Linked DNA regions of Homo sapiens. The protein of the gene in region 2 purifies or fractionates together with the protein of the main gene of each other region. This does not show direct contact. Each region holds a gene or a part of one and is shown on either strand. Other genes may lie near its edges.

The links.
Region 1: the proteins of RIOX2 (region 2) and TXNL1 fractionate together in Homo sapiens (co-fractionation; one large-scale study listed by BioGRID). This does not show direct contact.

What each region holds. Positions count from the first base shown.
Region 1 is NC_000018.10:56,625,081-56,628,736, forward strand, and holds part of TXNL1 (thioredoxin-like protein 1), read right to left. Parts: intron 1,378-3,656; coding exon 1,281-1,377; intron 1,187-1,280; exon of another isoform or gene 1,082-1,186; intron 1-1,081. UniProt on the Homo sapiens protein: Active thioredoxin with a redox potential of about -250 mV.
Region 2 is NC_000003.12:97,944,866-97,948,521, forward strand, and holds part of RIOX2 (ribosomal oxygenase 2), read right to left. Parts: intron 2,585-3,656; coding exon 2,496-2,584; intron 1,023-2,495; coding exon 933-1,022; intron 478-932; coding exon 319-477; 3' UTR 1-318. UniProt on the Homo sapiens protein: Oxygenase that can act as both a histone lysine demethylase and a ribosomal histidine hydroxylase. Is involved in the demethylation of trimethylated 'Lys-9' on histone H3 (H3K9me3), leading to an increase in ribosomal RNA expression.

The DNA of each region.
Region 1 (3,656 bases), on a different chromosome or scaffold from region 2:
TTCATGACAAGTATAAAGGAAACAGTAAAGCAAATATGGCACCTTATATATTCAAATATTATGAAAGTCACTACTATACTTTTTAAAGAAAAAGAACATAAAGATAACACAGGAATGTCTTCTCAAAGCCTCTAGGTGAAAAAACTATGACCTTTCAGGAAAGTGCTGCCCAAAACAATGGATATGTAGCACATGTGAGCTACACATGCAATTGTAAATTTTCTATTATCTATATTAAAAAAGCAAAATAAGTAAAATCAAGTTTAATATTACAGGAAATCTAATATATCCATTTTCAATCTAATCAACATAAAAAGATAATGCAATATTTTACATTTTTTATACTGTCTTTAAAATCTGATCTGTATTTTATACTTTCCGTACATATCAATATGAATTTGTCACAGTTAAAGTGCTCAGTAACCACACATAGCCAGTGGTTACAATACCTGACAGAACAGCTCCAGGAGAAAAGCATTTTCATTCTAGAAATAGTGATTAAATCAGGGGCCAATGATATAGTGCAATAACATGCAACTAAGTGCTGAAACATAAATGTGTGTAATGTAGGGTTTTCAACAAACCCCCAAAGTAACTACACACTACATAATATTCTAAAATTTTTTCCACACTCAGAAATTTAACAAAGATAAAGCTGCAGAGCTATAGAGTTGTTCCTTAGTTAGAACTAAAGACTCTACTTTTTAGTATTGGAAGGAGCTTTCCAATTTTTTTTTCCCTTAACAATTCCCCACATTTCTGCATATACAAATACAGAACTGCCACATACCATTCCAACTAAATAATCAGGGCAATTCACCTACAACACTGTGGCTCAATCAACAATAATCACCATTTTAAAGTTTCTGCTCAGTGTGTCCATTTGGAGATAAGATAACAAACTGATCAATTCAAACTACAACCAAGAACTCCTTGCCACTGCTATATAATGCCAATACCTCGGGGGTAGAAGATATAATTCTAGGTTTGCAAAACATAAGGAAATGTAATACACAGAACTGCTAGGTGACCTATTAACAACATCGTATTAATTTTATATCAGAAGGTGATTAATACAAACCTGAAGCAATTAATAATGTGCTACTCTTCTTAACTAATGCAGCCATAATGACATCTGTAATAATGACATCAACATAACATCTTCCTATCTTCAAAGGAATAAGTACTATGTGCATCAAGAGATAAATGAAGAATATTAATGTTGGATTTCAAATTTATTCAAAAGTAAATTAAAAAGAAAAAAGATTCCTTTCCCTTACCTGACACTGATGTACATCGACTTCCAAGAAAACAGCCTGTGGATATTTATTACTCATAGAACTGAATGCTGGGGCAATCCTCAAACATGGCCCACACCTGTTAGAAAAGGAAAATTAAGTAAAATAACACTAAAGATTGTAATTCTAAAGCACTCGTCAATTAAACATAAAATAGAACAAACACTGATACTGCTGGCTTTTGACTCTCTGTTTTTTTTGTTTTGTTTTGTTTTTTGCTTTAGACAGAGTCTCACTCTGTCGGCCAGAGTGGTACTCCAGGCGCCCACCACCACGCCCAGCTAATTTTTGTATTTTTAGTAGAGACATGGTTTCACTGGGTTGGCCAGGCTGGTCTCGAACTCCTGACCTTAGGTGATCCACCTGCCTTGGCCCCTCCCAAAGTGCTGGGATTACAGGCGTGAGCCACCAAGCCGGTCTTTTTTTTTTTTTTTTTTTTTTTTGGAGACAAGGTCTCATTCTATAACCCAGGCCAGAGTACAGTGGCATGATCATGGCTCACTGCAGTCCCAATCTTCCAGGCTCAAGCAATCCTCCCACCTCAGCCTTCCAAGTAGCTGCAACTACAGGTGCATGCCACCACACCCAGCTACCAAGCTACATTTTTTTTTTTTTTGAGAAGCAGGGTCTCACTATATTGCCCAGGCTGGTCTCAAACTCCTGGGTTCAAGTGATCCTCCTGCCTTGGGCCTCCCAAAGTGCAGACATTACAGGCATGAACCATAACCCTAGGCCTGATTCTCTGGTCTATTTGAGTAAGTTATTTACATATACTTGTATCAATACTATACTGTCTTAATGAGCCCAGATGTTACATTTAGTCTTCATAACTAATAGTGTTAAGTCTTCTAGCTTTGTTCTCACTGAGAGAAATTAAAGAAAACCTAAATAAATGGAGGAATTTACTCTGCTTATGAATTTGAAACTCAATATTGCCAAGATACCAATTTTACTCAATTTGATCTTTACAACTGATGTAAGATCTCAGCAGGTTTTCTTGTAGAAATTAACAAATTTCCATTCTAAAAATTATAGAGAAATGCCAAGGACAGCCCAAGTCGTTTTGAGGTTCTAATCTGAAAAAATTATATTATCAGATCTTAAGAACTATCATAAACCTTTATTAAGAGAATATAGTACTTGTACAAGAATAAGCAAAATGATCAAATCAGTTTTCCTTTGAAAGAAGAGTCTAGAAACAGACCCATCTCACATACAGTACTCTGATGTCTGAAAAACTTGATGTAGCATTGCAGTGGGAAAAGGATGGTCTTTTCAATAAATACTGCTAGATCAACTATATACTCATACAGGAAAAGAAATGAATCTCAACACACCATACACAAAAACCAATTCCAGATGGGTTGTAGATCTAAATGTAAAAGGTGAAACAAGGAGGGTTTTAGGAAAAAATACAGGAAGACACTTTCAAAACCTCAAACTAAGCAATGATTTCTTATACAAAACACAAGAAGTACTAAAAAAAAAAAAAGGTTTGACAGACTGGACTATATTTGATAAACTGGAAGATTAAAACCTTTTATTCATCAAAAAATGTCTTTAAGAGACTAGGAAAAAGTATTTGCAAAACATATCAAACAAAGGACTTATACTTCTAATACGTAAAGAACTCCTACAAAACAAGGAGAAGACTGAAACCCAAAAGAAAAAGAATGAACCCTTGAATAGGTACTTGACAAATGAGATTATCCAAACAGTCAATAAATAAAGTCAAAAACTTTCTATAAAGCAGGAAAGATGTTCTACTTCATTAGTCATCAGGGATACCCGGGAAATGCAGATTAAAACCAACTCAGCAAAAATAGCTACAAGAAGAATTAAGTATTGTCAAGAATGCAGAGCAACTAAACTTTTATATACTGTGAGAGTGCAAGCTGGTATTAACCATTTTGGAGGGAAAAAAACCAAACTGCTAAAATACACCAACCCATCAAAATTCCTGGGGAATACATCTAAGACACATGTTCACCTTAGAACATTTGAAAAAGTATTATTAGTAATAGTTCTAAGAGTCAAAAATCAGAAACAATTAAATTCTTATCAACAAAAGAATGGGTAAGCTAATTATAGTTATACAATGAAATACTACACAATAATGAAAATAACTGGTATAAAACCTCTTGCAAAAACATGGATGAACCTCACAAATAACATTGAGGAAAGAAAGCAACTACTAGCATATACTATATGACTACATACAGTTCAAATACAGACAAAACCAATCAATGGTATCAGAAATCAAGACAATGGTTACCTTAGTGAGTTACTGATAGAATAAGACTTCTGGAGGCTAGCAATGTTTTGTTTGTCTGGAAGCTGATTAAATAGGTGTGTTCA
Region 2 (3,656 bases):
TCCAAAGAACAAAGCCAGGTTAATGACATTCAATTCTAAATGATACATTGGAATTGTGCCTTTTCTACCACACTGGATTAAATAAACTTGTCAAAATATGGTTTTGTCATTTTCTGAGACACTTGGTAATTTGCTGTTCTTTCTTTCATGTGCCCGTTAGTACATTTGGCCAACTGACCACCTGTAACAGGGAGGTCTCATGTTTGTTAGTAGATACGCAGGTAAGGAAACTTGAATTCATCCTCTCCTCGGCTCAGGTCTTTGCTTTTCTTTTAATATATGCATATAAAATAGTAGGCATTTGATTCTGCAAAGGCACTAGACTACTTGAATTAAACATTCTGTCCAGAGGGATAATACCAGGCTTTCCTTTTCCTCATCTGTAGTAAGTTTCAGGTCCTTGACAGAAATAGCTGGACTATTCCAAATTTGCTTCAGTGCATCCAAATGTGACAAAGGGAAGCGAAGTCCATGAAACTGAAAGGATAAATTTATTTGTCAAAATATATGTATACTACTTATGTCATTGAAGTAGCATTTTCCTGTAAATTTATTCTCCATACATCATTATTTTTGATACCCCTCATGAGTATTTTAGACACACTACAATTAGATAACATAAAAGATGCCAACTTCTATATAAAAGGCATCCTAATTTATGTAGTAAGTGATATTAGTAATTTGAAATGTTTTACATTATACCATTCCTATAAGGCTACAGGTCCCAGCTAGTATGTCTTAAAACTGGTGTGCATGTATCACAGAAATGTCTGACTTAATCATCCCCATGCAGGAGCTCTGTGAGTAGTGCAAAATGGTTAAGTCCACAGTGCAGCCATAAAAAGCATATTACCTGTAAATCAAAAATAATCAATTCTTCCCAACCACCACCCAAGTCACAGGATAGGCATTTGTTTTCAGTTGAAACAAACCTCTGTTTCCTCCTCATTTCCCATCATGTGTGTCTCTCTACTATTCTTTAAGGAATGATAGATGTACACCATCTTTTCTTGAGCTTCATCCTTTGGGGAAAAAATAAATGCATTAGGCCATCAACAACACAACACTGAAGGTGTCAGTACTAGGAAGGTTTTCCAATAGGTCAACACCAAAAAAAATTTCAAAAGCCTTGGTGCTCAAGTGAAATTTATTGAATACTGTAAAGAATCCTTTTGGCAAAAAGTGACGGGTGTGTGCATCCACACAATGTCTATACTTCATTAGTCACCACAGGTTACTATTTGTATGTGGCAATTAATGGGCATTCTAAGTTGTTAAAACAGCTGGAGTGCTACCTGGAAGAGCATCTTCAGGATTTAATGAAAAAGCAGTGATTTATGTATCAACTTATCAATGAAATCCTCAGTTTTTTTAATCATACCTGCACTATCTTTTTTGAATAAAAAAATCTGACATTTCTAGGTATAAACTGACAATTTATAATCATGAAGTCATTAACTCCTGAGAAATACCAGCTGTGTGATCGATAAAAAACTCCATTTCAATTACACTACCCTCCCAAATGGTCCCTATCTCCCTTCACTCCCCATGTTACACAGTGCAGTTTATTGTCTCTTCCAGAGCCTTTAGTCATTCTTTGTCACCTCTTAGATAAGGGCAAAAAAATCTTAGCCTAGCGTACAATGTCTCAAACTGACTGGTTATCAGAATCACTATTTTTTTTTTAGACAGGGATGTAGGAATGTGTACTTTTGAGGATGTATATATATATATATATATATCTATTCATGTATATTCATATATATATTCCAACTCTGGCCCTGACGGCTGGAACAATCTGGTTATCGAGACATGTTGAGTGCCCCTCTCATCCCCCTTGATCATTCATGGGATAGCTCCTTAGAGAGCTGATTAGGAGGAATGAGGTGGAGCCATATGGTATGAGATCGTTCCAAGGTCTTTAGGACTGTACAGGGAGCTCTATCAAAACATAAATCCAAAGGCTCCAAGACCAGATGAAACCCAGGAATTTATAATTTTAAAAAGCTTTCCAATTGACTCCATGATCAGTTAGCCAGTTTGGGGAATCACTGGGCTAGGAAGCAAAATTACAGAATATATACTTTGTTCTCCATAATCTACAGGATAGAGTTTAAGGAGATGCAACAATATCCACAAAACCACATAGAAATATAGATCTGCACAGTGTGGAGGACTGGGGCTGAGAAACTCAGGAATGAGGTCTGTGGCTGTCCAAGCAAGAACAGTAAGGCCCGAAGTAGGATGAGAAGCAAAGACCAGACATTAATCACCACATAAAGGGGATGAAGGAAGGTTCTGTGAGGATGAGGGCAAGAAAATATGGAATTGGAACTGTGAGATTTGGTCATCATCTGACCTGAAGAAATGGCATTAAACTGAATGCAGGTGGATTCCTAAAGAAGGGCAGAGACCAGTGGTTAATCTAATAACCTGAGGCCTCTGATGAAAAACACCCTGAGAAGACAGGAAATCTCCTCCTCTTGGATACTCACAGATTGATCTTGATCCGGCAGTACTGTGAGGACAATGTGGTCTTTAAACTGCAGTCTCACTACACTGTCCAGCCTCGGTAACTTTCCACCTAGAAAACCCCAAAGAGAGAAAGCCGACCTTCAAAAAAGGAAACAGGCAGATTCAAACTTGCTTATACATACACATAGGAAACACATTTACTAACAATTTACAGGTGAATCCAAACATGGCATACACTCCAACTGAAGAATTTGCTTACCCCAACATTGTACTGATATTATAGTTCACATCATTATGCAGCTCATTCTTACAGTGAAGACAGACATAGATAAATAATGTAAGTTTATAAGTACAATAAATAGACAAAAATAATACCATCGAAGTACAGTGGCTATCATAGCACATAAGGCTGTGGTGCTTTCTGCACAGAACACTCACTCCTCCAGGTTCTGTCCTCTACAAGCTTCTCGCTCAACATATGGACTCTGGAAGTACTACCTGAGTTCAAAATTGCACTACTCCACCAATTATTAGGTGTGTGACCCTGGTCAATTATTCAGTCTATGTAAGTCAAGAATAGTATCCTATAAAAGCCATCTAATAAAGTCCACAGAAAATTTTTTTTTTCCAAATTGGATTTAACTTAGTGGAACAATACCCAATAAAAACAGACTAGCCTTACAGGGTCATCTGCGTGGGGAAGGAGTCGTGAGGGATCATCACTTTATTGAGTATAATGCCTAAGATAAGGAAAACACTGAAGTAGTCTGGGCCATAAGCTGGTGCATAAGCAAACTGTTCTGCTAAAGATTAAACCATGTGCTTGTAAAACATTTGCTATTTTGAATAGATACAATCAAAAACAAATTCTAAGCTTCCTCCAAAGACTATGATAAAAATGTATATAGAATCAGTGTTGGAAGGGACCTTATAGATTATCTATCTCAGTGGTTCTCTCTTGGTCATAATTAAGAGTTTTATTAAAGTTAGTAAAAAATACTCTTTTCACTCAACCCTGAGAAAGAACAGCAGCCAAAAAGCTGGCCTGGCACTCACAGCTAGGTCTTTGTGTTCTCCTGTTGAACACAGGCAATTCCACAGAATGCTAACATCAGAGATCACTGTCACCATGATAGGTCAAAACAAAACACCACCACTCCGTACATACTCATGTCTGGACT